Regions from separate parts of the Homo sapiens genome. Here region 2 is linked to region 1. The links come from fine-mapping of genetic effects on gene expression. A gene starts in region 1. The other region holds a variant in brackets. All regions are shown on one strand. Distances are from middle to middle.

Evidence for each region. PIP is the estimated chance that this variant, and not a neighbour inherited with it, causes the effect.
Region 2: its variant is the best candidate, but not a certain one, in a credible set for the expression of TRMU in testis (GTEx, PIP 0.84).

The regions. Positions count from the first base shown.
Region 1 is chr22:46,332,831-46,338,050 of GRCh38, forward strand. It overlaps TRMU (tRNA mitochondrial 2-thiouridylase), which reads left to right and starts at 2,884. Exons shown (of 11, transcript NM_018006.5): 1 at 2,884-3,016; 2 at 4,949-5,114. The coding sequence starts at 2,935. RefSeq lists enhancers at 2,922-3,141, 2,974-3,473 and a silencer at 3,282-3,331.
Region 2 is chr22:46,222,219-46,227,438 of GRCh38, forward strand. The region is part of intron 7 of PPARA (peroxisome proliferator activated receptor alpha); the gene reads left to right. Among named protein-coding and RNA genes, the nearest start is that of CDPF1, 25 kb to the right of the region's middle. The variant G/C (reference allele first, on the strand shown) is at 2,301.

The DNA.
Region 1 (5,220 bases):
GGGTTGGCTGCAACTGGGACTTAACCTGCCATAACCTTAGATCAGCCTGCCACACCCAAGGAGGGCCTGCCCCCAGACCCAGACTCAAGTTTAGACACAGCCTAAACGTGTACCTCTAAATCTGCACAAACTCAGCTGCCCAGATACTGGATTTCCTTATCTCTTCCGGGAAATGCAAGATGAAATTGCCCTCCTGTTGGGTATTTTCCTGATCCTTTATTCTGAAAAAGTGGTCATCCTTTTCCCCACAGGCCCTGTGACCTCCCTCCTGTCTTGCAGCTCCTCCTGGCACCAGTCCCCAGGGCTCTCCTGTTGGTAGTTCCTGCTTTTCTTCTTGGAAATTCCTCGTGGACCTCGAGATCTTTACCCTAAAATAGTTCTGTTGAATTTCACCCTGGCAATGTAAATTGATAGCTTATCTTCACAGATGCCAGACAATGGACAACTCACCATCAGTCCTCTGCTCACCTGAGACAAATGCATGTCTGATTGCTTCCTCTGCCCTATTGTTTATGTGAAAATGCAGATTCACTGAGCCAGACTAAGGCATCAGTGACTGTTCCTCTACCTGCCTCTCACATGGAGATTGTGTATTCAGTGAAAGGCTGATCAAAGACCCAAAGGAATGCAACAGTTTATCTCTTATCTACCTATGACCTGCGAGCTGCCCACCACCCCCAGTTGTTGCGCCTTTCCAGACAGAACCAGTGTACATCTTACACGTATTAATTGATGTCCTGTGTCTCCCTAATATGTATCAAAGCAAGCTGTGCCTCGACCACCTTGGGCACATATCCTCAGGACATCATCCTGAGGCTGTGTCACTGGCATGTCCTTAACCTTGGCAAAATAAACTTTCTAAATTGAAACCTGTCTCAGGTACTTTGGGTTCATACCACAAGGGAGGGTTCTCATGCACATGTGCCTAATAATAACAACTATCACAAAAGACTGCAAAAACCACAACTTTACACAAAGGCTATCGTAACCTTCCTCAAAAAAAAAAAAAAAACAAAAAACTTCTGTTGCAAGGACATCTGCCCAGCAACTGCTTGTCCAACCCTGGAGTGCTGTCACCCTTGTTATTGATCTTTGTAGCCAAAGAATTATCTCAAAACAATGATGTGATCCTCATTTTCCCTTTAAAAACCTTTGTCTTCCTAGGCCGGGCACTGTGGCTCACGCGTGTAATCCCAGCACTTTGGGAGGCCGAGGCGGGCGGATCACAAGGTCAGGAGATCAAGACCATCCTGGCCAACATGGTGAAATGCCGTCTCTACTAAAAATACAAAAATTAGCTGGGTGTGGTGGCATGTGCCTGTAATCCCAGCTACTCCGGAGGCTGAGGCAGGAGAATCGCTTAAACCCGGGAGGCGGAGGTTGCAGTGAGCTAAGATCACGCCACTGCACTCCAGCCTAGTGACCAAGTGAGACTGTCTCAAAAAAATAAATAAATAAAATAAAAACCTTTGTCTTCCTTTACTTCCCTGAATACCCACATAGCTTATTGTGGCATGCATATTCCCATTGCAATGCCCTATTCACAAATGAACATCTTTTTCGTTCAGAGTCTCCCTGTGCTTTAGGTAGACCTTGTCTAGATGCTAACTCGTAGAGAAGAACTCAGCTTGAATATCACCCCTGGGGGATGACCTCCATTCTCTCCTCCTTCCTTTATTCAGCGAGGTTATGAAGCACCTGCCCTGGGCCAGGGGCTTTTCTGGGCATGGAGTAGGAGTGGACAGAACACAAAACCCCTGTCCAACACACCTCACAGACATTAAGGATTGAGTGCTGAGTATGCTTGGAGTCAAACTGTAAAAGATTTGAAGATATTTATTCATGTCATAGTCCCAGGAGATCCTGAGAACACGTGCTCAAACTGGTGGTGCTACAGCTTTTGGTTTCGTACGTTTTAGGGAGACATAAGCCATAAATCAATACATGTAAGATGTAACATTGGTTCCGGAAAGGTGGGACAACTCGAAGGTGGGGTGGGGCTTCCAGGTCATAGGTGGATTCAAAGATTTTCTGGGCCGGGGGCAGTGACTCACACCTGTAATCCCGCCACTTTGGGAGGCTGAGGTGGGCGGATCCCTTGAGGTCAGGAGTGAGAGACCAGCCTGGCAAATACGGTGAAACCCCGTCTCTACTAAAAATACAAAAATTAGCTGGGCTTGGTGGCGGGCGCCTGTAATCGCAGCTACTAGGGAGGCTGAGGCAGGAGAATCGCTTGAATCTTGGAGGTGAAGGTTGCAGTGAGCCGAGGTCGCGCCCACTACACTCCAGCCTGCGACAGAGCAAAACTCCATCTCAAAAAAATTTAATTAATTAAAAATTAAATTAAATTAAAATACTGTAAAATACTTCGATATCTTTCAGGGCCTGCCATCTGTCATGTCGGTATCCTATTGCTACGGAGAGTCCGCCTAGACAGTCTTAAGTCTGTTTTGACGTTAATGCTGGTCCGAATTCCAAAGGGAGGAGGAGGGTCTAGTGAGGCGGGTCCCACCCGGCCTTTCCCATCAGAGCCCGAACTCGCGGTTCAGGTTCCCTCTAGGACGCCCTTGGCCGAGAGGAGGCCTCCAATGGCTGGCTGGGGGGCTTAGAATTTTATTTTTGGTTTACAGCGCAGAAGAAGAGCAGTGAGGCCGGGGCGCGGGTGGGGAGGGCAAGGCGGCGGCTCAAAAAAAAAGCCAGCCCCTCGCGGCCCGACAGAGTCTCGGCGCCCCGCGGGTCGGTGGAGCCTCAGGGGTGAGCGCAGGCCGGAGACAGGGGAACCCGCCGCGGGACAGGGGAAGGCCGGACGGAACGCGGGTAAGCTGCCGCAGCTTCCGGCCGGGCCACTAGCGCGGACCCTACGGCCGGGGCGGGACTTCCGGCAAGGCGCGGAAGCGGCGGTAGCTGCAGCTGGCGAAGTTGGGCGACTGGCGGATGCAGGCCTTGCGGCACGTCGTGTGCGCCCTGTCCGGCGGCGTGGACAGCGCCGTGGCCGCGCTGCTGCTGAGGCGGAGAGGTGAGGCGTCCGAGGCTCCCGCCCCCCGCCGAGCGAATGTGTCCCCGGAAACCTGTCCCCGTCCGTCGTGGCGTTGTGCACGTCTCCTCCCTCCCTGGGCCGCTGGTTGCGCGCGGGTCGGCAGGAGGATACCCCGTCCTCTGACTTTGGTTCGGAGGCTCCTCGCCCTCCACCTGTGTAGTCGGAGGTGTGCGCGACTGCAGCTCCGACTACCTGGGAGCAGTTCCGCGCCCCTCTCCACCCACGCGCGCCCACCCACAGTGAGAAGCCGGCGGGCCGGGGTGGGGTGGGGAGGGAAGGGTTTCTCACGGATCTGCGGCGTCCACATTCACCTGTGAGACCGTGGACACTGGTGAGGGGAGCTGGGATCGCCGGGCCGGGGGCCTGACCTCTGCACACGCTGTGGCCGCCCGGTGGGAGGTCCTTGTCCTCCCCACTCAGCAGACTGGACAACTGCCGCGCGGCGGGTCTGCTTGTTCAGCGTCTCCTGTGTTCTCCGCTCGCTGGAGGACAAAGTTTTCTCCAGGAGCATTTGCATTTCTTCCGGCATCTAAACGGAGCCCCACGGGTGCTTAGCATTCCTCGGGCCCGGCGCTGAAATGAGCACTTGTTTAACTTCACCTGTGTGGCTCCCCGCGGGAGGCCTCATTCACAGAGTCACGTTTGTGGAGCTCTGCTTTGCGCCATCTTTGGCTCCTGACCTTGGGCAAGTGAATTAAGCCGTCCCCTGTAAAATTCGGCTAACACCTGCCTCACGGGGTGACTGGAGGGATTAGATGACATAGTACATACTGATGAGTACGTGCTCAGCACATACGAGGTACGCAGAAAACAGTAGTGGCTATTAGTTTATATTGTTAATAACCATAGCTATTATGGTAGGTACAGTAAGTGCCAAAGAGAAGGGTAGGCGGACCATAAGCAGAAATAGTTGTGAGGAAGGGAGAGTGGAGGAAAGCATCCTAGAGATGGAGGTGCTCAGCTGAGTCGAAAGAAGAGTAGGATGTCACTAAGCAGAGACTTGGAGGTGGAGGCGGCCCTCCCGGCACAGTCAGCAGTGCAAGCAGAATCACAGAGGCCTGCAAGTGTGGGCTGGTTCTGGCCAGATGGAGATGGAAGGAGAGGAGCCTGGAGCACGTTTAGCCCTGATTATGGAAGATGCTATACCAGGGGCTTTAGACTGTTAGGTAGACATTAGTCTGGTTGATCTGGGATAGGGGTGGTCTTTCGCGTGTGGTGGTGTAGTTTTGACAAAGCTTTGTCATCAAATTTCTGTTGTTTTGGGTACTATATGAAGCCTTCTTCAGCAGTCATTTGCCCTGTCTTTCATTACATTCAGCCTACCTAAACGAACCAGCTTTCTCATACAGGGTCTGCACCTGTGTAGTTTGCTAAGGTGGTGTAGGGCTAAAGTTGGCCTTTCCAATATTTGGGTGAATATTTTGTTACAATCGAAAAGGTAGAAAATAGGTCATAAACTAGGTGGTACAGCTCTTACAAAATATCGAAAATTTTAATTATCTTTATATCTGATCACTTAGAATCTAAGTCTTAGATAGTAACTAGAAATAACTTTTGAAAAGAGTTTCCTTTTTTGATAACTGAATGGTGCTTTGAAAAATTTTGTTGAGTTTCGACTATTCCTTCGTGTATTCCACACACACTGGCTGATCCCCTCCTGCTAGGTATTGTGCTGATACATAGATGGGGACACAAAGATGAGAAAATACCACCTCGTTAATCTTGGGGACTCAGGCACCAAGATGGAAACCGGATCCCTGAAGCCACATGGCAAAGCAGGGACTGCCCGGCAGGCCAGGCACAGAGGCACAGGAGCACAGCGTGTGGGGAACTTCTCAGAGCTCAGAAATCACTGCCGTTTTACCGAAGGTTGATTTATGTATTCTCTTTAATTGACCTTCCCGCCCGCAGGTTACCAGGTGACAGGGGTGTTTATGAAGAACTGGGACTCACTGGATGAACATGGGGTCTGTACTGCCGACAAAGACTGTGAAGATGCTTACAGAGTTTGCCAGATCTTAGACATCCCTTTCCATCAAGTGTCCTACGTAAAGGAGTATTGGAATGATGTGTTCAGGTGAGTGCGGGTCACAGCACAAAGGAAGCTTCCTCACACTGTGGATCCTTGCAGTGGAAGGATCCGGTAACCAGCCAGACCGACGCCTGTGCTGCAGCCCAGCGCT
Region 2 (5,220 bases), 110 kb before region 1:
TTCCCCCTCCCCAACAGTTAAATAAGTCTTTGTCTCCATTACAAAACAAATCTCAGAGCTACCTTCAAAGAAGAGCCAGCCCTCAGTTGGTGAATGAAGATACTTTGACATTTTCCTATGAGCATGGTGAAACAGGTTTAATTTGTATTAAATAGCTTGAAGCAATCCTTATTGGGAATTACAAGGTGGAATTTTAGTCACAGGAAAATAAAGCATTTCACAAGCTACTTACTTTCATGAACAAACCAAACCTCTTCTTTACTGAGTCCTTTAATTCTTCAGTGAATTCTCCAATTAAATAGGCCGAGACATTTTAGAAGTTTCCAGCAGACACCCACACTAGGCAGCTCCAGAGGCTTGTCCCAATTAGAACTTTCCTGGATTACGAGAGTGAAAGAAAAGGTAACTTTTAGCTTCGAGTCTCTATCCTGGATATGATTAGTACAGCCCAAAATTGGGATGGCTAAAACTTTTGTTTGCCAGCTTATATTTCTCCCTTGGATTTCAGAATTGAAAGCAGGCTGGGCACAGTGGCTCACACTGTAATCCCAGCACTTTGGGAGGCTGAGGCGGGAGGATCACTTGAGGCAATCCAAGAGTTTGAGACCAGGCAACACAAGGAGACCTCGTCTCTACAAAAAATGATTTTTTAAAAAACTAGCTGGGCATGGTGGCATGTGCCTGTGGTCCCAGGTACTTGGGAAGCTGAGATGGGAGGATGGCTTGAGCCCAGGAGTTCAAAACCAACCTGGGCAACATGGCAAGACCACATCTCTACAAAAAATAAAAACATTATCCAGGCATGGTGGCACATGCCTATAGTCCCCGCGACTTGGGAGGTTGAGGAGGATGCCTTGAGGCCAGGAGTTCAAGGCTGCAGCGAGCCACGATCGCGCCACTGCACTCCAGCCTAGGCGACAAAGCGAGACTCTCTAAAAAAAATTCGAAGCAGAGTTAAGTTGTCTTTCTTCCTAACAACCTGCCCCCACCATGGGGTGCGAATGGGACTCCTGGAGTCCTCCTGCACCTCCCCTTGGAGACCACCAAGCTCTAGGAACCCCATCACCCTCAGCTGAGGGTCACATGCAGCAACTAGCAGGCGGGAATCTGTTTGCATTTTGGCCTTAAAGAAATAAATAATAGGCCAGGCGCGGTGGCTCATGCCTGTAATCCCAGCACTTTGGGAGGCTGAGGCAGGTGGATCACCTGAGGTCAGGAGTTGGAGACCAGCCTGACCAATATGGTGAAACCCCGTCTCTACTAAAAATACAAAAATTAGCTAGGCATGGTCGTGGGCACCTGTAATCCCAACTACCCAGGAGGCTGAGGCAGGAGAATTGCTTGAACCTGGAAGGCAGAGGTTGCAGTGAGCCGAGATCACACCACTGCACTCCAGCCTGGGTGACAGAGCGAGACTCCATCTCAAAAAAAAAAAAAAAAGAGGGCCAGGCGTGGTTGCTCATGCTTATGCCTGTAATCCCAGCACTGTGGGAGGCAGAGGAGGGCGGATTACCTGAGCTCAGGAGTTCGAGACCAGCCTGGGCAACATGGTAAAACCCCATCTCTACTAAAATACAAAAAATTAGCCGGGCATGGCAGTGTGCGCCTGTAGTCCCATCTATTCGGGAGGCTGAGGCAGGAGAATGGCGTGAACCTGGGAGGTGGAGGTTGCAGGGAGCCGAGATCACACCGGTGCACTCCAGCCTGGGTGACAGAGTGAGACTCCATCTCAAAAAAAAAAAAAAAGAAAGAAATGATAGATGAATAGTTTAGGATTGGGGTTCACAATTTGGTTTTCTGTAGAAAAAGAGAACCGGGCACTCTTCCGAGAGTCAGATGCCCTCTTCCACCCACACCCACAAAGCCAGAGCACCGCAGGTACCAGTTTTCAAGGCAACCTCCAACCATCATGTGACTCTTTGTGTTTGATCACACTGTTTGCTCCAAGCCAGGGTTGCGTCCCACCCCATGTCCTTGTCTGCGCACGGGACGCTGGAGGCACGGCCCCCTCCTCCCTGCCTAGCCTGCTGACGGGCTTTCCAGAGCTGGCTCCTTCAGGTGCAGGATACCCTCTCTGCTTAGTCTGGGAAAAGGCCCCGTTGGCAGGATGCCCACCACCAGGCCACACTGCCTGAATCTATTGGCAGAGCTCTGGTTTTGTGGCCAAGGTGGGTAGTGGAAGACCATAGCCTGTGTCCCTTACACATCTCAGAAAGCAACCCCATCTGTGGGCAAGAAATCTGTTAGGGAGACCAAGCAGCGGCCTGGAAACACCTTGATCTCTGCCCAGTGGCCCACAT[G/C]CGGTCGCCGTTTCATCAGTTTCCAGCCTGGGTGACCTCACAGCCCCAGCCACGCCCCACAGAGCCTCAGGAAGGCACACTGACCTCAGGGCCGGCGGCTGACTTCATTTCTGTTTGGGGATGAGAGGCGGCACAGTAAACTGTCCAGGCCAGTAAACTAATGGATTCATACGAACCGTAATGAACGTGGGCTGTGTGCTGGGGAAGGCAGGCTCGCCTCCTCCCTGCAGGGGCTGCTGGGGTGAAAGCAACCCTGAAATGTTCAAAGCCTTGATGGGGAAGCACGGGGGATGGATAGATTTTAATTTCAAAGCAGCCCTCTGGTTTGCTATAAGCGGGGGACTGAATTTCTCTTTGCAGTGGCCAATGCCTTTCTTCTGTCAAGATCAGCTCGTGGCCTTCAGATCAGATGACGCAAAGCCCCATGGCTGAGCTGGAACAGGCTAGAATGCTGGGGGGGGGCCTGAAACCGGTGGGGGAGTTGTGGGAGGCCTAGAATCAGCCAGGAGGCTTGGGTCGGGGTTGGAACCGGCCAGGGTGCACGGAGGAGGCTGTGGGGGCAGGGGGAGGCCGCTGCATGGAGCCGCATAGATGCCATTGCTTGAGGAAAGGTGGGCTTTAGCTGAGGGAAGGAGTGAGGGGTGGATGGAGAATGTCTGTGTCCATCTGGACACTGGGACTGTTTGAGCCCCTGAGATTTCAGAACCGTGGGCCAGAAAATGGTCAGGGCCCTTGGTGATGGGGAAGGGCGCCTCTGGGGAACTCACTGCCCCTTGATTTGAGGGTAACAGGGATGGAAGCAGAGTCAGGGGGCTGAGGGAGGCAATAAAAATGGGTGCTTTTCAACAGTGTCTAAAAACATAAGATGTTGACCTGTCAGGGGTTGAGAATGTCGTCAGAAGACTTTGGAGGAAGCAACAGAAAATGAGACTGAGGGGCTTGGGCAGAGTCAGTGCCTTCTGTGTGATGCACGCTCATGCACAAATGCACGCACATACCCACACTCACACATCCGTGCACACACGGGTACACACACATACACGTGCACCCACATGCATGCTCACACACATGCACCCACAGTCACACATCCATGCATGCATGTGTACACAAACACACCCACACATACACATGCACCCACACGTGTACACAGATGCACCTCCACCCCCATACATGCACATGGACACACACATGCACCCACACGCACACAAGCATCCATGCTCACATGGGTACACACTCACACATCCATGCATGCACGTGTAAACACACACACCCCCACACATACACGTGCACCCACACATGCACACAGACGCACCTCCACCCCCACACACGCACACACACACATGCACCCACACATGGATACACGCACACTCACACATGTACCCACACCTGTGTGTACACACACACATGCATGCTCACACACATGCACCCAGGCACACACAAATCCACATTCACCCATACAGTCACACACATGCATACACACACATACAAACACATGCATTCACACAGATGCATACACACACACACTTACAAACTACACATGTGCTTATACATGCTCACATGCATGTATATGCACACACATACCCTCACCTTATGCACACATGTACCCACACACGTACCCACACATATACAAGCATGCACACATATATATATATACACATGCTCACACGCATACCCACACTCACATGTGTGCACATATGCTCACACACACGTGCACACACATGCTCACACACACACTTACTGTTGCTCAGGCTTAGCTGCTTTGGGCTTAAGAAGCAAACTGCACCTTCCAAAAAATGAGTGTGGTGTTCAGTTAAACAACCAAATAATTCTTTAGCACTGAATATGTGGACTTTAGAAATTCAAACTATAAGGTGATAATAACGTTGTCCTGCTACTTTTTAATCTAACAAACATATCAGAACTGACACTCAGTTCAAATGAAGAAAGTAGGAATTGGGCGTGCCGTGTTATTTTTTCAAAGATTCTCCTATTGCTCCAAATTGTTGGGGATTATCTTAAAGTCTTTGAATAGCTTCAGTTATGGAAGATTTTACCCTCTGAGAATAGAACTGAATTTTAGACAAACCATGAGTCCATTGTAGCTAGACTGGCATGCAAGTTGGGATTAAACAGAGTAAAACGTCTTGTTTAAAAAAATAAGAAAGGCCGGCTTGGGCAACATAGTGAGACCTCCTCTATGAAAAGTTAGCTGGGCATGGTGGTGTGCGCCTGTGGTTCCAGCCGCTCAGGAGGCCGAGGCAGGAGGATGGAGGTCAAGACTGCAGTGGACTGTGGTTGCGCCACTGTACTCCAGCCTGGGTGACACAGCAAGACCCCGTCTCAAAAAAAGAAAACAGAAAAAAGAAAAAAAAAGTTGAGCAAGGAGACTAATTTGTGACATGCAGCTGAACATGGTTTTTAAGACCAGTTTTGAAAGAGGAATTCCAACATTATTCTTAACATTTCAGAAGCCTGGGCATAAGGGTGACCTCCAGGGTGCCGTGTTATAACAGGACTGCTCCTTTCAACAGCTATGACCTTATACCATGTCTTGGGGTGTTGCCTGCCGTGTGACAGTCCAATATTATACCTACTACTTAAGTTTTCTTTAGATTAAAAAATGTGCTTCATATTTTATGCCATTTCTACAAATGTATAGTAAAACATAACCAAGAGAGCTTATTAAATAATTTCATCCAAAGCAGTTCTACCAGTGCTTCACATTTATTTTTTATTTATTTATTTATTTTTGAGACTGAGTCTCACTCTCTTGCCCAGGCTGGAGTGCAGTGGCGCAATCTCAGCTCACTGCAACCTCCCCCTCCTGGGTTCAAGCGATTCTCCTGCCTCAGCCTCCTAAGTAGCTGGGATTACAGGTGCCAGCCACCACACCCGACTAATTTTTGTATTTTTAGTAGAC